Homo sapiens: one gene and its partners. The protein of the gene in region 1 interacts with the protein of each later gene in a pairwise test. Each region holds a gene or a part of one and is shown in the gene's direction. Other genes may lie near its edges.

Region 1 (3,500 bases):
CTATCTGAATTAAACTTTAAAAAATTGAGAATATTTTTGTCAACAACTGTCATATTTTGTTATACCTCAACTTTGAAAAATTTCTGAATGTGTGTGATAAAAGATTGATGAATTCTAATACCTAAACTGATTATTGCTAGGCCTCAAGCATCAAAATGCCTGACATGATAACTTTTTTTTTTCATTTGTAAAAGATTATGTAGTTTAATATTTGGGGCTATTAAAATAAGCCCACAATACATCTGCATTTTAACAGTAGACAACAATATTTTTCTTATTGATGTATCAGAAGTACAGTTATTTCTTAATAAAAGTATGGTTGCTAGACAGGCTGCAGGCAGTATTTTTGAAAAAAAAAAAAAAAAAAAGAAGAAGTCAGTGACCAGGCCCTTCATAGGTTAAACCCTTAAATGAATGACCTCACCTGATGAGGTGCAGTATCGTGTTTTAAAGCAGTCAATTTGTTCTGCAATGTTCTGGAAATACACGCGAGCTTCTGTTACAGTGCAAGGAGCCAAGGTACACGTATGTGCAGACACTCACCCACACACGTCCCTCGGTGTCTTCTCAGCAAAGCTTCCTACTGCATTGTGTTTCATTACCATTTCTCCTGGTTTTAACCCCAGAGCACATTCTAGTTTAAAATTATTGCTAAAAGAAGAGCCAGGCCTTCAGACAAACAGAATGATGAAGAATTAGATTTATTATATGTAATATAGTTTTGCTAGTATCCTGGCATCTCTGTTTTTACACACACACACACACACACACACACACACACACACACACATGCATGCATTCCTGACATCATCTTTTCCTGAGCTGTGGGATTTTCAGTTCTACTGCATCCGCTTTCATGGGGCCTGAGGGTCATGGAGATTAGAGACGGTGGGGTGCTGGGAGTAAGAAGGTGCTCATTAAAGAGAAGATGAGTATGCAGCACCTTTGAGCTTCATCCATTCACTTGATAGGAAATTACAGAGCACACGCTTGCTATTTTATTTAATTAGAAGCAGACCTTTGTAAATACAAATGCACCTTAAGGACTTCAAAGGTGATTTTTATTTAATTCACATAAATGTATGTAAGGAAGAAATGTTATCAGGTGAACAATTTCAGGGCTGCCTCCACTTCCCTTTCTCCCCCATCTTTATTAAACAGATTAAAAAGCTATCCATAATCTCAGGGTTCACCTAAATTCCGAGGCCTTTTAACTTAAGCTGCATGCCCCTCCAAGATGCCCTCTGTAGGAAAACAAAATGCCACGCAGACCTTCAATAAATGCCAGTGGATCGTTCTCCACTTTTTGACTCTCTCCTTTGTCATTTTGGTGTGACCACGGTTTGCTGCCTCGGGGGATCAGTGAGTCACGGGGGGCAGAACCAGCGCAATACAGCATTCTGGTAGGGGAACTAATTTTGACTAAAATATTTGCCAATTCTAATCCCCAATTCCTGGACCTCCGGGTAGCTGGCAAGGTATTTTATGTTAGATGTGTCTGGAGTAAGGTGCACGGAGTATTTCGACAAGAGACTCAATTCAATGCGTATTAAAACTTGATTGAGAGAGGGAGAGAGAGAGGTCATTTTATAAAGAAAGACCTGTGAACACTGTAGATTGGAAATTTATGTTTGCAAAATAAAAGGATGGGTTTATCAAGTGGATGCATTTACAAAATGTGGCATCCAGGTTTCGTAAAATTAGCTGAATTCTACGGGTAAGATTATGAATGTGGCTCATAAATAATTAATAGGTAGTGAAAAAGAATGTATTTTGCATTAGGCAGTGCATTCAATAGTATTTCGGAAATGAGCACTTCGATTTCCTCGGTTTCCATGCGTGGCCCACCTCTCCAGAGCAGGGCAGGCACCCAGGGGTGTGCCCACACAAACAAGCGCGTGTGGGCATTTTCTTGGCTGCTGCGCTGAAGTGCACGCTGGGCCTTGGTGCCCGCACCCTCAGCCTGGGAGATAGGGAGGTGGTGCTACCTGCAGGCCGATTGTGTCCCCGCCATAGGACACTAGTGGGCGGCAAACCTCACAAGACTCTTGCAGCCAGCCTTCAGCAGAGCCAGCAAACCCAGCCGCCACCGAGGGAGGACTGCTCCATGCAGATGGTCAGGGGCTTTCTTCTGAAGACGCCTCCCCCACGATCTCTCAAGTTCACTGCGCCCAAACTCCGGCGTCGTAGAGTTCGTCTAACAGGAACCGGGCAAAGGCAACCGCAGGTCAGGCGAGGTCCAGCAGCCTTTGTTTTCAACTGTACAGCGGAGGACCGTATTCACAGCAATATCTAGAAACCTAGAAGGTGCCCAGAAAGGAAACACAGGTGTTGCAGCGGGTAGCGGGCCCGCAGAAGGGTGCATTTGCACCCCCTTTCCAAAGCCGCGAGGGAACCCCGGCGTGGCGCGCGCCTCGGAGGTGGCAGCTCCGGGAGCAGCTCCGCGCCTGATTGGCTGACCTTCCAATGTCATTCCAGGAGCCGCCGCTTCTCCTGCTGATGGTGACAGGGGTGATGCTGACGTGCCCGCTCCTCCGCAGTCCATCAATCTCCGCAGGCAAGGCTCCGGGACCGGGAGCCCCCTTCCCTCTCCCCCAGGCCCACTGGAAAACACCTGTTCCCCTGGACTGGGGGGTTAACTCTTCAAGTTCCAAAGACCTGGGCACAAAAATGCTCATCTTATCTCTCCGCGCCCCTCCCCCCAACTATATTTATGTTCTTTTCTTCAATGTTGTGAAAATGCCAGAAAATTCAAAGTTGCATTTCCCTTGCCGAATCTATGGGTTAAGATAAGGCAGTGGGAATGGAAGATTCCAGCAGCCCCACGGAGTATCCACTATGTCGTTCTGAATTCAAAGGGTGGAGCACACGGATGTTTTCTGCAGGTGACGCAAGGTCTGTCAAGGTGGCAGGAGGGAAGCAGGGACAGGATTTTGGTTCAGAGGTCAGACAGCTTCTGACCAGGACGTTCAGAAGGGTTGGGTTTCACAAATCTGCTCCTGAAAATCAGTTCCCTCCATATTATCCTTTTTCTAAAAATCTTGGCTGTTTCCTTGATGGAGTCTGTGGTAATCGTTACGCCTGCATTTAGGTGATGCTGATTTGGCTAGTGACTGCCTCTCTCACTAGCTAGACAGGAGCCTCCATAGTCTGAAATGCGTGCGAAGCCTGAGCGTGTCCTTAGCACAGAGCAGAGCACATGGTATGGAGTAGTGGAAATAGATGATGTTCCTTACGGAGTGAAAGGAAAAAGTGATAGGCAGAGCCTTTCTCCCCTCCTTAACTCCTGTCCACCTTCCTCCCTCCCGTCCACCTCTCTCTTCTGCCTCTAGCTGATTGGCTCCCCCTCTTAGTTTGCTTTCCTGGACTTGCTCTCCTGGTCCCTATCTTGCATTCTGACTAAACCACTGGACTCTTTTGCTCTACCCACCTTTTTCTGTCGTAGTGACTCAATCACGGTAGAAATGTTTATTTTCCAGAAACGCCTGTGGCTTGGGGCA
Region 2 (3,500 bases), on another chromosome or scaffold:
GTCTTCCAGGGGTAGGAGTTGGGGTGGGGTTTGGAAAGCTTTGTCTGGATAAATAATTAGTATTGTAGTTCCATTTATTTGATGTCTGATTTTGCGCTTATTAAAATTGATTTAAATCCTCAATGGAAAATGATTTTTTTTTTTTCAAATGCCAAGTGTTGTGTGACTTGCATTTGGATTATTCCCGGTGCAACCTGAAGATTCCTTGTGATGAGTTGTGGTTCCATCATCTTGGGAACCACTAAGAGAATTCTGTTTTACTCACAATCCAAACAATAAATGTTTTTTTCCCTATGTATGCCTTTATCCAGCACACAGTTTGCTAGACTTATGGATGAATATGGGTTAATATAACATGGTATCTATCCTTCTGGAAACAGACTTTTAAAACCTTACTAAGCATTCTCTGCATTCATCAAATGTGAAGTGAGTGCCTGGTGTGTGCCAGGCATCGAGCTGGGCACAGCATATCCCTGCCCTCAGAGCTTTACAGTCCAGTGAGTTCAACAGAAGATGAACAGTTTTGATGACACAAAAAATAGACACATGTGCATGCTGTGATAGGGGGAGATACAAGTTCCTGTGGAAGCATCATCTGGGAGGACCAGGGAAGGCATCTTGGAAAAACTGAGCTCTGAAAGATGGATAGAGTTAACCACATGAAGAGTGGAGAAGGGTACTTCAGACAAGGTGAACAGCATCAGGAAAGCCCAGGGAGGGTATAGAAAAGAAAGAACAGTAATTCTTGCAGTGGCTTTCAATGGGAGTGGCAGTCATGGAAGGAAGGAGAGGTAGCAGGGACCAGCTTTTGAAGGTCTTTGTGTATCACATTTTAAGAAGTTTAAATTTTAACCTAAGGTCACTGGGAAGCCATTGGCAGATTTTGTATGTTAGGAAGTTCACCACTCACCTACTTGGAGTATTGCAGGTGGAGCTAATGTGGATGGGCCTCCTGCCCATTATTAAATCCTGTTCCTGTCAGGAACAGGACAGCCCATGCTGTCTCTCCCTGTGTGTCTGTCTCTCCCTGTGTGTCTGTCTCTCTCTCTCTCTCTGTCTCTCTCTCTCAAAAGCTAAAGGAAAGCGCATAGGTTCCAGAAGGAAAAAGAAATAACCACTAGAAAAATAAGTATAAGCTGACTTTACCATGGCGCAGTGAGATTCCAAACCAAAATAAGGTTTCTAGGGATTGAGCTTTTAATACTGGTACTCCAACAGGGAGATAGGACTTGGGAAGCTGACGCTGTGTGAAAGTTACAGAATTAAGCAGCCTGCAAACCTGGACCTTTGAAAATCGTCCTACTGACCCAGGAAAAGTGCAAGGAAGTGGGTTCTCCAGAACCTTGGGTAGGCCAAACATTACTTGAAGGCATCGATCTAAATAATACACAAAAGCATTATTCAGGAACACCCTGAGAAATTAACATAAAAACTGATTTGGCCAGGCATGGTGGCTCAGCCTCTGGTAACAGTGCTTTGGGAGGCCAAGGTTGGAAAATCACTTGAGGCCAGGAGATCCAGGCTGTAGTGAGCTATGATTGTACTACTGCACTCCAGCCTGGGCAACAGAGGGAGAGTCTTAAAAAAGCAAACTGTCCAAGATCATTGAAACCATTAGCACTTAGGAAGAAACAAATGAAATTACATTCAAGGGGCTCACATTTAAATCCAGGGCTCTCAGGACTCCCAAAGTAAAAAGATGGACATAAAATAAAAAAATTACAAGCCACTTGAGAAAAAAATAAATCACCATGAGGTAGAGATAGCAGAGGAAAAATTACACATGAAGATCTAGGAATTAGGGAGCTATCCAAGATAGACTGTGAAAGTATGTTGCAAGTGACTGAGGGTAATGAAAAAAATGTCATAAGAGCATGAATTAGAAGCGTTTTGAGAAAGAATGAAGATAATGTGATCATTGACTGTAAACTCATTTGATGGGCAACAATAGATGAGACACAGCTATTAAGAGTGGATCGATAACCTTGAATGTGGATGTGAGGCAACTGTAGTATAGCACAAAAAGGTTGAGAAATGATGGAGCCCTTAAGCTGCTTGTGGACACTGGTCTGGAGGGGGACAGGACCAAGAAAACCAGTCATGGAGGTTGAACTAAGTCATCTCTCCAATGTATCCGTGCCTGTTACGTGCCAGTGCCGTTTAGGAGCAGAGGATATTGTAATTTTTTTTAAAGTTCCTATGAATACCTTCTAGTGGGTCATAATGGCTCAACCGGGAAATGGCAGTAGAGATGAAGAGATGGATGGATTCGAAAGACATTTTTTGGAAGTTGGAATTAACAGGATATGGTGAATAATCAAGAGATAGTAAAAGCATAATGGAGGAAACAATGGTTCTTCCTGTTACCATAGGAAGAAGCTTTGGAGTAGAGTTTTATTCATTTTAAATGCATTTATTGTGCACTTTATTATAGGTATTGGAGATTGATGGAAAATAGTCTCTGACCTCAAAGAGTTTCACAGGAAAGATGAGCGATGGCTATGTAATATGACCAATACTGGGATAGAGAGGTGCCCAGGTCACTACGGGAGGACTTAGGTGATTTCTAACTATGTCTGAGAGTAGGGGAAATGGGATCAAAGAAAACATCTCAGAAGACATGAAGCTTGAGCTTATGTCTTGAAAAATTTAAAGTTTAACCTAACCAAGGATAAAGAATCAGAAGAAACAGCATATTCAAAAGCTAAAGAACACGGGACTCTTGTGTGCTTTGCATGTACACACGTGTGTGCGTGTGTGTCTGAAAGGATTGGAGAGGAGGGCGAAGAGAATAACAAGATGAACGTCAACCTAATGTAGAATGTTTGAAGTTTGTATTTCACTTAACAAGACAGCGGGGAGTGATGGAAGGATCTTAGATAGGAAAGGGACATGAGCACGTTTGCCAAGAGAGCTCGTTCTGATCATAGTGGGTACGTGAAGGTGACAAATCTGGAGGCAGATAGCTCACATTTGGAGGCAGTTGCAGTCATCCAGATGAGAAGTGAGAGGGACCTAAGCTGTAAATTGTGGGAATAAAGACAAGACCCGTTAAAAAGAAAGAGAACACACCATGTAGCGTGGAAAGGAGAAGGGTGGAGAGTAGCCTGTGCAGAAGGAACAACCTTCAAAAAGACATGGAAGACTGAAAAGACACCCTGTTGTAGGGAGATCAGCAATGCATTTTTTATAACCAGGTGATACAGGGAAAAGGTAGGATCTGAAGCTTGAAAAATAGATTGGGGGCTGATTGTAAAGAGCTTCGTGTCATTCCCAGGATTTTGGAACTGATTTTACTAACATGAAAAAGGTTTTGTTTTAAAATACTGAGTAATATAGTTGGAACTATAATTTAGAAAGATAATAGCTGGTGCCATCACTCTTCTAAGCAAAGATAGTAATACATTTAATGCTCATAGGCTTTAGTAATACATTTAATCCTTACAGTAAGCCTATTAGATAAAAACCATTATTATCTCCCTTCTATAGACAGAGAAACT
Region 3 (4,266 bases), on another chromosome or scaffold:
TTACTCAGGGAGACGCCTCTGCGCTGCAACCTCATGCCCGGGAGGGCAAGGCTGGGCTAGGGCGGGGGATCGCGAGGGGCTTGGCTGGGAAGAGGACTGCAGGAGAGGTGTCCCAACTCTCCCCTCGCTCGCCAGGCACACAGCACGCGCCTACTCGGTGCTGGCTGCATAGAAGCCCAGGGAGCTCGGGCCGATCTCCCAGTCTGGTTGCCACCAGACTGGGTGGCAGGAGCTTCTAGACCTGGAGGCTGGCTCAGTCGTGTGGTCACGACGGGCGGGGGAGTGGAAGGGCGCTGGCGCGTGGTTTCGGCAGCCGACTTGGCGAGGCCGCGGCTGGCGGGAACCACGGATGGGGGAGGCGCCCATGCACCGACCCCACCTGGGCCACTGGGAAACCGAGGTAGTCCCTCCTGGCACTGGGGTCGCCCCCACACACCTCCCCAGAAGGAGATGTAGGGTCTGTTTCTGAACTGAGACCCGCCCCCGAGTAGGGCGCACACTCAGCAGAGACCCTCCACACCCAAGCCCCTGGGAGGGGATCTTTTTTGCACACCTCCCTCCCACTTATGCCCCCTCTCAACCCTGCATAGACCTTTCTCAAAAAGGCGCCCGTTGGTTCCCATAACCCTCCCCCTCCCCCAGGATGGAGACCCCTGATGGGAGATAGGGGTGGTGAGAGGGGGCGGGCGCAAATGAAGATGCGCGCGACCAGGACCACCTCTTGCTGTCACCCGCCACGTCCCCAGCATCTGGACCGCGTCCCCCGGCCCGCCACGCGCGCACACACACACACACGCGCACACACACACGCTCACACTCACCCTGCGCGCAGACCCCGCCCGCGGCCCCGCCCCGGCCCCTGCGGGCGCCCCCTCTGGCGTTCCCGGGCGGCGGGAGGCTGCGGCTTCGGGCAGATTTGATTTTCCCGCAGCCCGGGCGCCCCGGAGCCGAAGCCCGAGCCGAGGAGGTGGCGCTCGCAGCCGCGTCTCAGCCCCGTCGCCGCCGGCGCCAAGACCCAGGGAGAGGCGGCGCAGCCCGGGCGCTCGGGCTCCGCGCTGCCGGCGCCCCGCCACCCCCGCCGCCAGCGCCCCATCCGGCGCCTCCCGCTCCTCACGCCCCTCTCCCTGTCTTCTGCATCCCCTCTACCTCTGCCCACAGACGCGCGTCCCTCTCCTGGTGCCCCTCTCCACGACTCCGCGTTTCCCTCCCGGTGCCCTCTCCCCGAGCCCCTCTCCCCGCGCCCCTCTCTGCCTTCCCCGCTGTGCCCCCGCTCCCTGGGCTCCTTGCCCTTCCCCACTGGGCCCCTAGCCTCCTCGCGGCGTCACCCGAGCCCCCTCCTCGATCCGCGGCCCCCGCTCCCTCCGCCCTCTTCCCTCTCTCACTTCCCACGCCCCCTCTTCGCGCTCCTCTCTCCTCCCCTTGCCGCCCAGCCCAGGCTCTGGAGTTGGGGGAGAGCCCAGGGCTCCAGTCGCTCCGGAGGAGGCGTGAATCGCGCAGGGATTGACTAATTTGGGGTGGGGGGTGCGGTGGGCGATGGAGCAGCCTGAGGACATGGCGTCGCTGAGCGAGTTCGACTCCTTGGCGGGCAGCATCCCGGCCACCAAGGTGGAGATCACCGTGTCCTGCAGGTGAGCCTCCCGCTGGCCGGGTCCCCTTGCCCCGGCCCTGGACGCAGAGCCCCGCGGCCCCTGCCGCTTCGATCCTAAACCTCCGCGCGCCCCCTTCCCAGAGTGTCCTGGTCTCCAGGACTGCGCCCCTGCCGATCTGCCAAGAGCCCCTGTCCTGTCCAGCTGCGGGTGGCGACGGCAGAATAGGAAGCCAGGCTGGGGTCATATCCCAGAAAGTTTGCGCTCCAGGCTGTTGCATCGAGGAGATATGAAGACACAGGAACAGGGGGTCCAGGCACCCAAGTGGGGAGAGGGAGTTGGTAAAAGGCTGTACTACGGTCTCTGCTCAGGCTATCTCTGATCACCCCATCCCCAAATCACGAAGTGAGTGATTTGCCCCCATCCCTCCCAGGCTCGTCCACCCTCTCCCTTCTGTGCCCTCCTCTCTTCTCTCTTTGCCCCTTCTTTGCCCCAGCATCCTGATCCTCCCCTCACCAGTCTCCCCCACCCCACTGTCCTAGACTCTAGGATTTTAAAGCCTTCCTTCATCTCTATCAACAACGAAATCGACTCCTGGAAAAGGATCAGATTGACTCATTCATACTAAGGTGTGGATACATGATAACAACTTAAAGTGGCACCATTAAAAAAATAACTTGGGTCAAAAATCTTAAGCCAAAGGAATAGAACACTGATTGTGAAACTGTAGAGTCCAACAGAGGAGGAGGGGGAATATTTTTGTGGGCTACCACGCCCAAATCTTCACTCATGTCACACAGGGTTTGGGGGTAACTTCTCTGTCTAAGAGCTGGGTCGACCCCAGGTTCTCCTAGCTAGGGGAAGGCTGCCCCTGGCAGTAAGAGGGTATGGGTGGCAAAGGGGGATTTTTCCCTAGTTCAGTCTCTCTGTGGCTGGCCTAGGATCATGTGCTGCCACGCAAGCATCACCCACTTTGAGGTTCCCCCACAGAGGCCATGCCCCCTGCCCCAGATCACCGACAGCATTTCTGGAGCCCTGGCTGTGCCCTTGTTCGAAATCACCCATCTCATCCTCTTCCAGGTTGCTCCTTGGTCAGACCCTCCATGAGAGGTAACCTTGTTGCCCCCCAGTCCTGTATTACAAAGTTGTGGCATTGATGAGGTGTAGGTAGAGCTGGAGAGTCTGGGCAGGGGCGTGAAGGAGGGAAGGACTCAGTGTGACTTTCTCTTGAAGACTTGGGGATAAGTGGCAGTGAAGGCTAGTCTGGTTGAACGTAGCTTCCCCCCTAAGCCAGGCCCTCTGGGGGCTCCTGTGATAGCTCCCAGGTCCCATACACCATGCCGTCAGGATCATCTCCCAACGCCATTTGCATCTTGTCATTACTCTGCTGGGAGATTCCTGATGGCCCATTAGCTCCAGTCTCACCTCCTCAGCCATCAAAAGCAGCACGGCCTCCCCACCCTTCTCCTGCACGCACATCCCTGCGCCTGGCACTCCCTCCCAGCCTTCAATCATGCCTGTCATCTTCAGTTGTCTTGGGATCCTTCCCACCTCCAAGCCTCTGAACAGCCCATTCCCCATCCAGATTTCACTCTTCCTTTATCTCCCCAAGTTCATGATCCCCCCACTCCTGAAAAGCCTGGCCTCACGCTCCCCACTTTCAGGCATCCTCTCACCCATGAGACACACAGCTCAAATCATTGTCTTCTGTGTCCCGTGGGCCCTAGGTACTCAGCCTGGGCCACAGGGTCACTCACATACTGAGGATGAAACCTCTTGAGACGTCTCAGGTGTGCAGACGTCATCCCTCCCCTCTCAAAGCAACTGTGTAAGCATTTGAGGGCAGGGATTCCCACCCTGAGTCAGACCCATGCACCCTCTACTCCAGTGGAGAGGAAAGGAGATGGAGGGCAGATAGTGTGGCTTTGGAGTCAGATACCTTGAAACAGAATCTCTGCTTCACCACTTGGGGCAAATTTTAAGCCTCAGTTTCCCCCACCTGTCAGGTACAAACAATAAGCAGCATGTACTCATGGAGAAACCTTGTTCACCAAGGTAGCTCATGTGCTTAGAGCAGTGCCTGGCACTTGCCAAATACTGTTGGAGGAATTAACTTGCAGGAGTGGAGGAGCATGAAGCACCTAGCAAGCTACTTTGCACTTGCTTGGCACACAGTAGGTGCTCAATAAGTAGCTACAATGATCACCGGAAGGCGGTAGCACCTGGCCCCTCCTGTTTGCTTTCTGGAAGTAAAGATGTCCAAAGGACTCAAACCTCTTGCATAAGAGGCCTTCCTGGGGGATGTGGTTCTGGGGCTGACCCTGGGTCAATACCCTTTTGGGGGACATGATCCATGAGCTGAGGAAGGCCCTGACCTGGGGCCTGCTCATGTTCTCCAGAAAGCCAGAGGTGGGGGGAAGTGGGTTTTGGTGGGGAGAGATGAGGAGGGAGCAGTCACTTAGAACAGAGGGGAGGTGAGAAAACAGTCTGGGTGGCCTGGAAATTGTAGATGCATCTCTCTGCCTCAGCCAGGCCCAACTATTCAGGTTCTAGAACAGAGAGAAAGAGGAGGAGGAAAAGGAGGAGGAGAGGAGCACAGGGAGGAGGGAGAAATGCAGACAGTGGCTTTCTCCAGCATATTCTTCACTCCATGGTCGCCAGTTAAAGTCAAGTCCCTCCC
Region 4 (3,500 bases), on another chromosome or scaffold:
TTCACCTTCAGATCATGAATATTTGTTTTTGCAAAAGAGTTGTTCATGACTAAAAGATAGAATCAGGACATTGAATTGTTTAAGGCACTTTTCAGATTGGTTCAAAGCCCTCTATTATGGGGGTAGATGGGCTAGTGGCTTTTTCATAATATGTTAGGGTTTTAAGGTAGTAACTTTATATATGGTAACATCTACTGCTTTTAAAATTATTTCGTGTATAGAGAAGATTGAAAGCTGAATTGTTGTTTAACTTTGGAACTTTATTTTCAGGAAGTCCAGACATTCCAGAGTAATAATTAACAGTGCTTTGCGTGACTTTTGAGGTTATTTGAAGTAAATGTCCTGCAATTCATTACTTGCACTTATCACATACTGTTTTAAAATTTAAACTTAGAAATTCATGCCGAAGTCCAACTTAAGAATTATGGGAAATTTCTTGAGGAGTATACCTCTCAACTGAGAAGAATTGAGGACGCTCTGGATGACTCAATTGGAGATGTTTGGGATTTCAATCTTGATCCTATAGCATTAAAGGTTTGATTTGATTTTTTAAAAATATATGTATATATTTTCTGGACATACTATATCCTGAAAACATAATTTTTTAAAATGGAAAAAGTATTTTTATTTGAAATCTAAGAACAAAATGAAAGTTGGAGAAAATTGTTAATTTCCTTTTCTCTAAGCCATGCAGATGTTTTTTAAATGTGTGTGTTTTCTGTTTAAGAATGACAAACACACAGCCTTTAGTGTCAAAGAATGACACAAACTCCAAGTCTTTGAGCTTGCCTTTGATTTTCATTATTAAGAAAATGAGGGCTGGATAGAATATTCAGGCTTTGTTTTTTCTTGATTGAGACTATTTTACATAGAGTGAAATGCAGATACTCTTAATTTTGCCAAACACTTGTAACTCATATCCCAATTAAGATAGAGAATATTTTCACCATTTCTGAAAAGTTCTCTCATGCTATATAGATGTTAATGTGTGAGTAATTTTTTAATGTATAAAATACATTACTCTTTCCATTTTGAAATATTTCTTTTATCTTTAAAATTAGTTTGTTACCACTTGAAAAATAATTTACATTTTATTGAGCACTTGTGTATTACACACTGTCCTAAGTCACACACTGACTTGTTTTTATAACAGCTTTCTTGAGATATAATTCATATATCATACAATTCACTCATTTAAATTGTATAATTCAGTTGTTTTTAGCATATTCACTGAGTTGTACAACCATCACAACAGTCAATGTTAGAACGTTCTCAGCCCCCAAAAAAGAAACCATGTACCGTGTGATAATCAACCCCCAGTTCATGCCATGGCATACCTGCCCTAGGCAACCACCAGTCAATCTACTTTTTATCTCTATGTGTTTGTCTCCTCTGTACACTTCATATAAATGAAATCATACGATATGTGCTCCTTTGTTGCTGGCTTCTTTAACTTATGTTTTCAAGGCTCATCTATGTTGTCACATGTTTTTAGTACTTTCTTTTTTTGCTGTTGCTGAATAATATTCCATTGTAAGGAATGGATAACCACATTTTATTTATCCATTCATCAGTTGATAGACATTGGATTTTTCTACTATTTGGCTGCTATGAGCATTTGGGCACATGATTTTGTGTAGACATATATAAGTATATTGTATATAAAATGTGTGTACATTGTGTGTATATTTTATACATATGTATATATGGGAGTGGAAATCCTGGGTTATGTGGTAACTATGTTTAACTTTTTGAGGAACTGCCAGAATGTTTTCCAATATGGCTATACCATTTTACATTACTACCAGCACTGCATGAGGGTTCCAGTTTCTCTACATCCTTGCCAGCCTTTATTGTCTTGATTATATTCTTCCTAGTGAATGTGAAAGCTCATTGTGGCTTTGATTTGCATTTCTGATGGCTAATAATGTTGAGCATCTTTTCATGTGCTTATGGCCATGTGTCTGTTTTCTTTGGAGAAATGTCTGTTCACATCCTTTGCCCATTTTTAAATTGGGTTATCTTTTTAGTATTGCATTATAGGACAAGTATTGACTTTTAATTCCCACCACAATCCTATAAAGTAGATACAATGTCATCTCCATTTGTAAATGAGAAAACTAAGGCATAGAAAAGTTAAGTAACTTAGTCAAGTAAGTGACACATTTAGTTAAATAATGAATATCAGGCAGCTTGACTCCAGAGCCTGTGCCCTTATCCAATACCCTGAACTGCCTCACAAATACTTTATATATTTGTAAACTGAAATTACTTTCCTTTGACTTCTTTTCTTGCAGGCTGGATAGACTTAGTCTTACTTTAAAAATCATCCCCCCCCAAATTTGTAATTGTCTCTTTTTGTTCCTCAACACTTCTGTGAGAATCATTGTATGTAAGTTATAGGAACTCTACTAGGAAACTGTCATTCTCAACCTGTACTATCTCTGAGGGTAATAAGTTTCATATATCTGTCACTTGGCATTAAGTAATACATGTTGATTTTTTAAACAGATGCTGTTGGGCTTTCTCGCCATTAAGTAATACTTGTTGATTTTTTTAAGACTTGCTGTTGGGCTTTAAGGGCCTCTTCTAGATAGGATTATAAAATCTGTTTTTTTTCTCAACTCTCAGATTTTATAAAAGGGTGAAATCATCTCTTAGTTTTTATCTTCCCCTACAGAAGCTTTCTAATCTTTACAATCTTATTATATGACAGACTCCATCTCCGCAGTTGCTCTCTTCGGAACCTCTGTTTAAGTTCTATTATTGGGCAGTTATTTTATTGTTTTTACTATACAAGGTTCTTAGTATTTTGGGAAAAACCACAAACTCAGATAAAACCTCTGTAAACAAAAATTACAACCTAATGAGAAAGGGTATATAATAACTTACTTGCATAAATAGTTAGTTAGTATGTAACCAGAAGGGAGATCTGAGATTTCACTTGATAAATAGATCACATATAGTCAATGATCAGGAAGAGGTGGAAATTGAACGGGCTTTAGGAGTGAACTCCACATACTATTTTAAGTGTTTCTGAGCATGGATTTATACAAGAAAAGATGTATTTTCTGTCTTGTTTCATTCTTAATTTATTTTGACCCTTTAGCTACAATATCTTATTAAATTTGTGGCTGCATAGAAAATTCAAAAATGATGAAAGGTTTTTCCCCATGATCATAACTAATGGAGTTTAATAATGTTACTATTACCTTATTACCTTGCATTTTCTTATACTGCACTCATAATCAGCCACCTTATGCTCCATAGGACAAGTAGAGTCGTGATTGTGTCATGTTGGGCCATTTCTTTCCTTACGTGTTGTCTAATGAGATTGTTTTGGATGAAGTAGTTGATATGGTGCTAATGTTGAGTACAGGATCTAACACAAGTTTAAGTCGAATAAAGCTAGCCTCAATTTGTGTTTTTAAAATTTCAGTTATTTTTCAAATTAAAAGAAATGTTCTTTTCCTTTGTTTCTGTAGCTTTTGCCTTATGAA
Region 5 (3,991 bases), on another chromosome or scaffold:
TATTAAATGTACATTTATGTATATATATAAAATATACATTCATATATATTATATATAATATACATTCATATATATTATATATAATATACATTCATATATCTATCTTTTATATATATATATAGACAAGATCTTGCTCTGTCGCCCAAGCTGGAGTGCAGTGGCATGACCACAGTTCACTGCAGCCTTGATTTCCTGGGCTCAAGCGATCCTCTCACCTCAGCCTCTTGAGTAGCTGGGACTATGGCACACACAACCACACGTGGTTCATTTTTTGTTGTTTTTTGTAGAGACAGGGTCTCACTCTGTTAACCCAGGCTGTTGTATTTTCTTTAAGATTGGTTTAAATTCACACGGACTCCAGCATCAGAACTACCCAGATGTCAGGTTCTGGGCAGAACTTGGGGCAACTGATGAAATGTCTGCTCAGCTGAAGTCAGACACCTGGACACTTAATGCCCTCTTTCCCTGGCTGATGCTCAGTTTCATTTAAGAACCAGGAGAGCCTGATGTTTGTAAACACAGCTTTAGTGGAAGCACGAGGGTTAGGAGTCCCTAGAAAGGTGATATGAAGCCTAGGTGGATGTGAGGGTTGGTGAGATGGGAATTGCACAGCATAGAATCTGACACAGAAGGTACTCAGAAAATTTCGTTTTCCGGCCTGGCGCGGTGGCTCACGCCTGTAATCCCAGCACTTTGGGAGGCTGAAGCGGGCAGATCATCTGAGGTCAGGAGTTCGAGACCAGCCTGGCCAACATGGTGAAACCCCGTCTCTACTAAAAATACTGTACTAAAAATACAAAAAAATTAGCTGGGCGTGGTGGCGGGCGCCTGTAATCCCAGCTACTCGGGAGGCTGAGGCAGAGAACTGATTGAACCTGGGAGGTGGAGGTTGCAGTGAGCCGAGATCACGCCACTGCACTTCAGCCTGGGTGACAGAGCGAGACTCCATCTCAAAAAAAAAAAAAAAAAAAAATTAGCAAGTTATTTGCAGCGTCTATCTCCCACCACCCTGACTGCTGGTCCACACCATACTGTCCCAAGCTTCTCAGGCTGCGGTGCAGACGAAGAAATCATCGCTATGCATGCTGGCCTTGGGATGGGGGCGCAAAGCCCCTGGACGCGCCCCGCCTAGTGGGCGGGAACGACTACAGCCCCCAGCATGACCCGCGGCCGCCCATGCCACGCCCCGCCACGCGTGCGCTTAGGCGCCGCTGAGCGCTGACTGGGTGCGAGTGGGGAAGCTGCTAACCCGACCCGGATTGGCGCTGAGGTGGCCCGTGGGGCAGGTGAGTGCGGGGCGGGAGTCAGCGGAGACCCACCGGCGCCTACAAGTTCCCCTCAGGCGGGGGCTGCGGGGCGGCTGTGGTCGGACTGTCCGACCGAGGGTCGTATGGGCCGAAGGCGCCCACGAGAGAAGCACCGCCTCGGGCCGGAGAGCCGCCGGGCCGACCTTGCTCGCGTCGCCGTTGGAATGGGGGCCGGGGACGCGGCGGGGCGGGGAGGTCGGCTGCGTCCTCCGGTGCGGCCGCCCCTAGACGGCCGAGGCCACCTCAGGTGTTCGGGGCGCCAGCCGGAATCCACCGCGCTGGCAGCCGGGAGCGGTTTTACGAAAACCGCGCCTGAGGCGGGGGGCTTTCTAAAAAGAGCCTGGCTGGCTCTGGCACCGGGACAGCTGCAGACTCCTCCTCAGGTTTAACTTGCGGTTTTCCCTTTAAGATTCAGATCCAGGTGCAGAACCCGGGCTCGGATCCAGGCCCGAGACTCGGAACACCGGTGTGTTTGCATTTTAGCACGGGGGAAACTGAGGCATACGTTAGCCAGAATCATCCGGTGTGGTTAGGACTGGAATTTTGAAAATTATTCTCATACTTAGTTTACTGACCTAGGCTCTTTTTTATTTGGAAAGAAAAATAAAGATGTTTCAAAGGTTGTTTTCAGTGACTGGGTGACTAGTGTATCTTCCAGTCTCACGCTGCACGTTTGTGGTGGGTTGATGGCTCTTTTTTGTTTTGCGGTGGGATAGAGATGTCCTGGAATGTTCTACACCTTTCTTATTCTTTCTTAGTAAATTCAAGTCAAATCAGACTCTGATTCACAAAAACTCATTTTCAACTTCGACTCGTTTACTCGTAGTTTTTGTGACAGGTTTGTGATTAGGTTTATAGGTACATATGTTTCCCGCTTTTCTTGCTCTTTTAGTTCCAATTATCTCTGCACTCTAAACAGTTGAATTACATCTTTGTTTTTACACTATTTCTGTTCTTGGTGATTAATTTGTAATTCTTCTTTTCTTTTCTTTTCTATTTTTTTTTTAAGACGGGAGTTTCGCTCTTGCCCGGGCTGGAGTGCAATGACATGATCTCGGCTCACTGCAAGCTCCGCCTCCCGGATTCAAGTGATTCTCCTGCCTCAGCCTACCGAGTAGCTGGGATTACAGGCGCCCGCCACCACGCCCGGCTAATTTGTGTATTTTTAATAGAGACGGGGTTTTTCGCCATGTTGGCCAGGCTGGTCTCGAACTCCTGACCACAGGTGATCCGCCCGTCTCGGGCCTCCCAAAGTGCTGGGATTACAGGCGTGAGCCACTGCGCCAGGCCCGATTAATTTGTAATTCTATAGATATCTTTCCTGGCTTTTGATAATCCTAAGTGAATGTAGCTTTTTCATCCCTAATTATCATAGTAGCCTGAGCTTTAGTTCTTCTCCCTGTCCCCCCCCCCTTTTTTTTTTTTTTTTTTTTTTGAGACGGAGTCTCGCTCTGTTGCCCAGGCTGGAGTGCAGTGGCGCGATCTCGGCTCACTGCAAGCTCTGCCTCCCGGGTTCACGCCATTCTCCTGCCTCAGCCTCCCGAGTAGCTGGGACTATAGGTGCCCGCCACCACACCCGGATAATTTTTTGTATTTTTAGTAGAGACGGGGTTTCACCGTGTTAGCCAGATGGTCTCGATCTCCTGACCTCGTGATCTGCCCGCCTCGGCCTCCCAAAGTGCTGGGATTACAGGCGTGAGCCACCGTGCCTGGCCCTCCCTGTCCCTTTTTAAGCGTGGAGGTGTGTGGTCTGGGAGGGGAGAGGGTGAGGTGTCTATTGATCAGATATGGGTAATAGGTTAACATAACCCATGACCAGAACATTAAAAGGCTGTAAACAAACAATTGCTTCAATATAAAAACGCATACCTCGTGAATTTGGAAACATGTCAGGTTGATAGAAAAGTGAACTCGGGTAGAACCTCACAGAAATGAACCCGACATTAGGGTGAAATATTGAGAAGGGAAGGGAGGAGATAATCATCTCTTTTATTTTACAGCCATCTTTCTATGCCTGGAGTGGATGTAGGAACAGCCTGCTGGCTCAGAAGCTTAAAAAAAGCTCTGTGTGTTTTCAGTTTTTCTCTTCTTAGTTCTCAATGAAGGTTTTGGCAGGAGCCCAAAATCTTGTACATTTGATAATTTAACATCAGTTTCATCTGCTTACTCTCCAGATAGCCTGTTATTCAGCTGGTGACGTCAGTAATTTTCCACAGCAGCCATTCATGAGCTCATGCAGACTGTCACAAGGAAATGGGAATAGCACAATGAGTGTTACAGAAGAAAAAAAGATCCTGTTTCTTTGCCATCACATATTATACACAGACTTAGGGAATCTAGACTGGAGCACAAGATATGTGGGAGGGGTTAGAACACCACTCCTACCTGTAGTAATAATCATTGAAACCACTTATTGGATGCCTTCTGCTTACCAGACACTAGTTGTCACAGGTCACTGTAAGTGACAGGGCCAGAATTTAAGTCTACCTGACTCTAAACTCTGCTCTTTTGTCTGTGCTGTACTACCTTATCAACAACTGTGTTCAAGTCTTTCTCATTCTTAAAAATATATGAAACTTTCCTGTGATCATATTTCCCTTCAAATTACTACCATTTCTCCTGCTTTTCCTTTCTAGACTTGTCCTTAAGAAGCAGACTCTACATTCTTCTCTTCCATTTACTCC
Region 6 (3,189 bases), on another chromosome or scaffold:
GGCTGTCCTGACGACCAGTTCCTCCTTCCCTGTCCCCTCTTCCCTTCCACAGTCATCCCTTGGTCTCTGTGTGGCGTCGTTTAGTTTTTACAGCTTAGTTTCATTTGGGCTGCAGCCCAGCCCCATCCGGGAGAAGCGGAAGCTGGGGCTGAGTCTCCCGCAGGGTGCAGGAGGTGGTCTGGATCCCCTTGGGACAGGCCTTGCCCCCCAGAGCCCACCCCACCCTCCACAGCTACCCTCAAGCCTCTCTTTGGGGTGAGGAGTCAGGCGGGCCCCACTTGGCCACCCAGGGCACCCTGCTCTGCACTGCATGGTGTTCACGCCACCTCGCAGGTGCCCCCCGCGGGACCCAACAGGACCAGCTGTCCCTTGGAAGTTACCCAGCTTGGCTTTGCTGCCAGAGAATGTTTCCGCCACCTCCACAAGCCGCGCGATGCCCGAACTGTGATCTGGGATGTCATCCTCAATCCTTCCCACAAACGTGGCTCACACATGGCCTCATCTGCCCAGGTCTCTGCTGCTGCTGCTGCTGTGAGGCCAGCGGCGGGCCAGGTTCCCTCTGCTGTGTATTATCACAGTTTCCATCCTTGGGGGCTTTCCCTTTCTCTCGTGGGTCTGTGTCCGCACAGCTGGATGTGTGGCCTGGGGCTTCCTGTATTGGCATCAGGGCCTGTGATCTTCCAACCACACTCTGAAGTTGACTCCGAGCGTATCCTCTGAGGATGAAGGTCGTGTTTCATCTGACTGTAAACCACTAAGTCATGTGTAAATTTGGGAATCTTGTATTGTTAACCAAAAGGTGTCCCCAGGCTGTTGAGGCAGATGCCCTGGGCAGAGGCTAGAGAGCGCGCTCCACGGGCCACCTCCAGGTCTGTTGCACGCCCCCGAGCTTCAGGTGGGTGCACTGCATGTGGGGCACCCTCCTTCCAGCTGAGTTCCGTTCAAAAGCAGTCAGCAGCCCTGGATGCCTGTGTGCTGGGCACTGCTGGTGCCAGGTGGGCTGATGGGATGGACCTGAAGCTGGTGTCACTGGGAACCAAGTGTCCCAGAAGGTGGGAGAGTCTCACCTGCCCTCTGCTGTGGGTGTGGCTGCTCTGGAGCTCGGAGGTTGACTTCCCGTCTGTGAGCTCTTCCCTTTTACATATAGATAAGTGAAAAGCAAAAGGCATTGTTCCTTTTTTATGTTTTGTATCACGATCTCCTCATCCTTTGCATGTCGTCCGTTTGGCATCCCTGTTATGTTAGGCCTCTGCTGGATCCAGACCCTCACGAGAGGCTCCCCGCCCACAGGTGCTCACATTCTGGCTCGGGGGACGAGGTTGGGCTTCGAGGTGGTGTGCTTCAGCCTCTGGCTGCAGCCCCTTCTCACCTATAGTGAGGCCGGGAAGATGACCGGGAGTGCCAGGCTCATGCATCCTCTGCTGCAGGGAGGAGATCTGGAGGTGGGGACTGAACAGCCTCCCCACTGGCTAAGAGAAACACGTGCAGAGAAGCGCTTTGCTGGAGGGCAGGCACCTGTGGGTGCCCAGACAGGGGAGAGAGGGATTTGGACCTAAGGCCCAGTGAGCCCTGACATAGCACGTGGATTCTGCAGGAAGGTCACAGACCTGCCTTGTTTGCCTCTGGTTCTGAGTACCTCTCCTCCTTACTGCAATGTCCCCTGAAGGTACACTCTGGCTGCTTCCCACACACTGGTGCAGAAGCAGAGGCCATGCTCCTGGATGCCTGCTTGCCTGATGCTAGTTCTTCTCTGTCTCATACACGCAGGGCAACAGGTTTGTCTATGCTGGCTCTAACTCGGGCGTGGTCCAGGCCCCGCTGGCCTTCTGTGGGAAGCACGGCACCTGCGAGGACTGTGTGCTGGCGCGGGACCCCTACTGCGCCTGGAGCCCGCCCACAGCGACCTGCGTGGCTCTGCACCAGACCGAGAGCCCCAGCAGGTATGGGGCGGGATGCGCTGCCTGGGGATGTCCCCCATGTGTGTGGGTGAATAACACGTGCCGGTTGTTTTGCAGGGGTTTGATTCAGGAGATGAGCGGCGATGCTTCTGTGTGCCCGGGTGAGTGACTCCTCGACGTCCCATTTCCTTTGGGAGTGGCGAGGTCTTGTAGCCATTTCACGGTGCTTCAGTTCTGTGGCATTTGTGTGTGTTTTGTTTTTCTTTCTCCACTCGGAACAGAGGTCAAGTGTTCTGTAGCAGACTCGTGGTCTTCTCTGTCTTTTTTTCTTGCCGAAAGAGTACTTGAAGCCACTTAGAGTGTATCTGCTTACTGGGAAGCAGTCTCCTTCCAAAACCATCCTGTTTTCTTTCTGCTTAGCTTGGGGCTCATTAAGCAAAACCTAAGCCTGTTATAAATGGGGAGAAAGGAGCCCATGAGTGATTAATCCTCAGGCAGTGTAAGGGCTGGGGTGGTGTTTCCCCTGGGGCTCCCACCTGGGATTCACCCGCCTGTGGATGTCTGAAATAGCACCACACCCAGAGGGAGGGGTGGCATCAGGCCAGATGCCCCTTCCCCAGCAGCCACCTTCCAGGGTGCTAAAGGCAGACTTGACCCTCAGTTCTGTGTCTTCCTGACCCTGACAAGACAGCTGTCATCAGACTAAGAAAGGTTTAGGCAGCTGGGCATGGTGGTACACGCCTGTAGTCCCAGCTACTAGGGAGGCTGAGGCAGGAGGATTGCTTGTGCCCAGGGGTTCAAGGCTCAGTGAGCTTATCATGCCACTGCACTCCAGCCTGGGGTGACAAAGTGAGACCCAGACTCTAAAAAGAAAACAAAAGCTGGCCGGGCACAGTGGCTCATGCCTGTAATCCCAGCATTTTGGGAGTCTGAGGCAAGAGGATCACTTGAGCTCAGGAGTTCGAGACTACCCTGGGCAACGTGGTGAGACCCTGTCTCTACAAAAAATACAAAAATTAGCCAGGCCTGGAGGTGGTCACCTGTAGTCCCAGCTACTCTGGAGACTGAGGTGGGAAGATCCCTTGAGCTGGGGGGGTTGAAGCTGCAGTGAGCTGTGATTGCACCACTGCACTCCAGCCTGGGCAACAGAGCCAGACCCTGTTTCAAAAAAAAGAAAAAAAAGAAAAGTTTAGGCAGGAGGAGAGTGCTGAGATGCACTGAAAGGCCAGTCTTCCTTGCAGCCATTAGCAGAAGCGTCTCGTGTCTGATTCAAAGAGCTGACACTAGGCAC
Region 7 (3,500 bases), on another chromosome or scaffold:
CATTCATTTCCCTCATTCTCCACTGCAACCAGCTTAGTCTAAATTGCCAGCTTCCATCTTTTGACTGGACTGCACATATAGCCCCTTATGTGTCTCCTCATATGCCTTTGATCCCTTCATTCTATTCTCTACCTGCAGTCAGAATGTTCTTTTAAAAAGACTAGGCTGGGCGCAGTGTCTCGTGCCTGCAATCCCAGCACTTTGGGAGGCCCAGGAGGGTGGATCGCTTGAGCCCAGGAGCTCAAGACGAGCTTGGGCAACATGGCAAAACTCCATCTCTACAAAAAATACAGAAATTAGCCAGGCATGATGGTGTGTGCCTGTAGTTCCAGCTACTTGGGAGGCTGAGGTGGGAGGGTTGCTTGAGCTTGGGTAGTAGTAGAGGTTGCAGTGAGCCGAGATTGCACCACCACACTCCAGCCTGGGTGACAAGAGTGAGACCCTGTCTCAAATAAAAAAAGAAAGATACAATTTTAATTTACATACTAGAAAGCTCACCCTTTAAAAGTGTATAATTCACTGGGTTTTAGTGTATTTGCAGGATTGTACAATCATCACCATAATTTCATTTTAGAACATTTTTATCACCCTAAAAAGAAACCTGATATCTGTTAGCAAGTCACTCTCTAGTTCCCCAGTCCCCAGTGTCTTTTTTTTTTTTTTAGCTCCAGATAACCACTAATCCACATTCTGTCTGTTGATTTGCCTGTTTTGTGTATTTCATATTTATAGTGTCATATAGTATTGGTCTTTTGTAACTGGTTTCTTTTACTTAGCATAATGAGAAATTTCACATTTTGGAAGCATTTTAATTTGAGTAAAGCAGCATGAATCTTATATAACACCGTAGTATTAGTCACAGAAAATAGGTTAATTCTAAATAAATGTGATCTGTCTTTAGTTTGTATCGAGTTTATAGGTCAGCAGAATTTTCCCAAGCAATGATGGCATGTGCCTTTTTCCAATCTTTTATTTGTCATTGGTTTTTCTACCCTTGATACCAAGAAACTGTTGGCCAGGTGCAGTGGCTCACGCCTGTAATCCCAGCACTTTGGGAGGCTGAGGCTGGCAGATCACCTGAGGTCAGGAGTTCGAGACCGGCCTGACCAACATGGAGAAACCCTGTCTCTACTAAAAATACAAAATTAGTCGGGCATGGTGCATGGTGATGCATGCCTGTAATCCCAGCTACTTGGGAGGCTGAGGCAGGAGAATCTCTTGAGCCCGAAAGGCGGAGGTTGCAGTGAGCTGAGATCGCGCCATTGCCCTCCAGCCTGGGCAACAAGAGTGAAACACTGTCTCCAAGAAAAAAAGAAACTGTTGTTCCTACCCGGCACAAAGTAACAGAGACCCAGAAATCTGCCTGTGATCTGAAATATAAATACACACACACACACACACACACACACACACACACACTGTGTGTGTATGTGTATCTCATATTTAATTGTGGGCAGATCTAGTGATTCTGAAATTTCCTCATTCTGTCAAACAGTTTTATTAGTGGAATGCTTTGTTCAGGCTTGATTTCTTCAATGAGTGTTGTGTGTGTTGGACTGTGTGAAAATGTGGTTGGCACATTTGTGAAAGGTAAAAATACAGGTCACTTGGCCTTTCTGAATTTCATGGGTAAAGGCTGTGTCCTCATTGTGGCTTCTCCTCCTAGAAATACATAGTGTGTGACTGAGTCAGTAAAATGTTTATTGAATAATGCTGTAGTATTTTAACATATACAACCATAATACAATCTCAGCTTGATTAGTTTAAAATACTTTTACCTCTAAGATTATTGATTCATAGTGGCATGTTATCTCCCAATAGCATAGACATTTCTCTGCCGTCACCCTTGACAGTCATCTAACCCTTGCTTGAGTAATTCCATTGGCAAGGAGCTCTCACTTTTCACTGTTCTAATTGTTAGGAAGTTCTTGTATAAATTCCACTGAAATCTGCTCCCACTGACTTTAGTTATGCCATCTAGCACAAAACAAGTGTAATCTTTTATCCCTGAAATCATCATCCTCAAACTTAACATCAGCGTGGCTTCCTTAAGCATGAGGATCTGGTCCTTGCTATATTGGTTGTCTTTCTGGATGTGTTTTAGCTGCTCACTGTTTGGATGTGCAGAATCGTTATAAGTGAATGACAGTGTGGCTCTCTACCTATAAGTGGCCTGGTGAAGGCTTGAGGCTGCCTCTCATCCCAGAGTGCATTGCTCATTCCTCTATGGTATAACAGGGTGCTGCATTATTTGACTCGATCATTTTTCTCTTTTTTTTTTTTTTTGAGACGGAGACTCGCTCTGTCTCCTAGGCTGGAGTGCAGTGGGCCCATCTCGGCTCACTGCAAGCTCCGCCTCCCGGGTTCATGCCATTCTCCTGCCTCAGCCTCCTGGGTAGCTGGGACTACAGGCGCCCAATAACAGGCCCAGCTAATTTTTGTATTTTTAGTAGAGACGGGGTTTCACCATGTTAGCCAGGATGGTCTCTATCTCCTGACCTCGTGATCCGCCCACCTCAGCCTCCCAAAGTGCTGGGATTACAGGCGTGAGCCACCGTGCCCGGCCAACTCGATCATTTTTCTTAACACTCCCATCGCATATGAATTCATAAAGAAGGATCGACTAAAACCTTCTAGTTCTTGCAACACTCATTAGACTGCTGCCTTTAGTGTTATTGCTTCAAGTTTCTTTTGCTTTTTTTCAGCATTTATCTAAGATAAGGAAACGTTAAATTTTGACATCTCTCTTCTAGATGAAGTAAAGAAGGTCTTAGACAAATTTTACAAGAGGAAAGAAATTCAGAAACTGGGTGCTGATTATGGACTTGATGGTAAGGCCCAAAACATCTTCATAGAGGTATTTTATTACCTCTTACGGTACAGCTTGGTCAGGACTGTACGACCCCTCATGTGACCTGGCTGTTGTAGTCTGGAGACACGTCCCTGCTCTTTGCTTCTGGCTGAGTGGGAGACTGGCGAGGCTCACCTGGTGAGCCATACTGCACGGCAGAGGAGCTGCAGCTGCGGCCTTCCTTCATGCTGTGCTAGGACTTCAGTTTTAGCCCAGATCATAATAAACCAGCTGTACTGCCAAAAAAAAAAAAAAAAAAAGAAAAAAAAAGACTCTTTGATGAGTTTGGTGTGGTGTGTCTGTGTGCTTTTTAAAATGAGAACTACACCTTACATCTTTTCATTTTGTGTTTCTACAGCTCGTCTCTTCCACCAAGCTTTCATAAGCTTTAGAAATTATATTATGCAGTCTCATTCCCTGGATGTGGACATTCACATTGTTTTGAATGATATTTGCTTCGGTGCAGGCAAGTGTTTAGAGACTTTTTAAAATCCTATTGAACATACCTTCTATTTCTTCTCATACTTCATGCTCATTTCTCTAGAAGGGCTTATTTGGTTTAGAGTGGGTCTGGTAACATCCTCTGTAAATAATTCAGTGCTTTCACAGGATGACTTCTAGGTTGTTTGCTTTTATATTGGGTCCCTGA

Evidence for each region.
Region 2: the proteins of DSCAM (region 1) and ZNF202 interact in a two-hybrid assay, tested with the Homo sapiens proteins (one large-scale study listed by BioGRID and IntAct).
Region 3: the proteins of DSCAM (region 1) and CPNE5 interact in a two-hybrid assay, tested with the Homo sapiens proteins (one large-scale study listed by BioGRID and IntAct).
Region 4: the proteins of DSCAM (region 1) and WASHC4 interact in a two-hybrid assay, tested with the Homo sapiens proteins (one large-scale study listed by BioGRID and IntAct).
Region 5: the proteins of DSCAM (region 1) and SGSM3 interact in a two-hybrid assay, tested with the Homo sapiens proteins (one large-scale study listed by BioGRID and IntAct).
Region 6: the proteins of DSCAM (region 1) and SEMA4D interact in a two-hybrid assay, tested with the Homo sapiens proteins (one large-scale study listed by BioGRID and IntAct).
Region 7: the proteins of DSCAM (region 1) and SUPV3L1 interact in a two-hybrid assay, tested with the Homo sapiens proteins (one large-scale study listed by BioGRID and IntAct).

Annotation. Positions count from the first base shown.
Region 1 is NC_000021.9:40,840,659-40,844,158, reverse strand, and holds part of DSCAM (cell adhesion molecule DSCAM isoform CHD2-42 precursor), read left to right. Parts: intron 1-3,500. UniProt on the Homo sapiens protein: Cell adhesion molecule that plays a role in neuronal self-avoidance. Promotes repulsion between specific neuronal processes of either the same cell or the same subtype of cells.
Region 2 is NC_000011.10:123,731,661-123,735,160, reverse strand, and holds part of ZNF202 (zinc finger protein 202), read left to right. Parts: intron 1-3,489; exon of another isoform or gene 3,490-3,500. UniProt on the Homo sapiens protein: Transcriptional repressor that binds to elements found predominantly in genes that participate in lipid metabolism.
Region 3 is NC_000006.12:36,836,645-36,840,910, reverse strand, and holds the start of CPNE5 (copine-5), read left to right. Parts: upstream 1-1,466; 5' UTR 1,467-1,533; coding exon 1,534-1,628; intron 1,629-2,128; exon of another isoform or gene 2,129-2,215; intron 2,216-4,266. UniProt on the Homo sapiens protein: Probable calcium-dependent phospholipid-binding protein that may play a role in calcium-mediated intracellular processes. Plays a role in dendrite formation by melanocytes.
Region 4 is NC_000012.12:105,110,731-105,114,230, forward strand, and holds part of WASHC4 (WASH complex subunit 4), read left to right. Parts: intron 1-394; coding exon 395-534; intron 535-3,485; coding exon 3,486-3,500. UniProt on the Homo sapiens protein: Acts as a component of the WASH core complex that functions as a nucleation-promoting factor (NPF) at the surface of endosomes, where it recruits and activates the Arp2/3 complex to induce actin polymerization, playing a key role in the fission of tubules that serve as transport intermediates during endosome sorting.
Region 5 is NC_000022.11:40,369,403-40,373,393, forward strand, and holds the start of SGSM3 (small G protein signaling modulator 3), read left to right. Parts: upstream 1-1,191; 5' UTR 1,192-1,286; intron 1,287-3,991. UniProt on the Homo sapiens protein: May play a cooperative role in NF2-mediated growth suppression of cells.
Region 6 is NC_000009.12:89,379,925-89,383,113, reverse strand, and holds part of SEMA4D (semaphorin-4D isoform 1 precursor), read left to right. Parts: exon of another isoform or gene 1-1,686; intron 1,687-1,767; coding exon 1,768-1,940; intron 1,941-2,015; coding exon 2,016-2,059; intron 2,060-3,189. UniProt on the Homo sapiens protein: Cell surface receptor for PLXNB1 and PLXNB2 that plays an important role in cell-cell signaling. Regulates GABAergic synapse development. Promotes the development of inhibitory synapses in a PLXNB1-dependent manner.
Region 7 is NC_000010.11:69,183,234-69,186,733, forward strand, and holds part of SUPV3L1 (ATP-dependent RNA helicase SUPV3L1, mitochondrial), read left to right. Parts: intron 1-2,705; exon of another isoform or gene 2,706-2,753; coding exon 2,754-2,831; intron 2,832-3,209; coding exon 3,210-3,317; intron 3,318-3,500. UniProt on the Homo sapiens protein: Major helicase player in mitochondrial RNA metabolism. Component of the mitochondrial degradosome (mtEXO) complex, that degrades 3' overhang double-stranded RNA with a 3'-to-5' directionality in an ATP-dependent manner.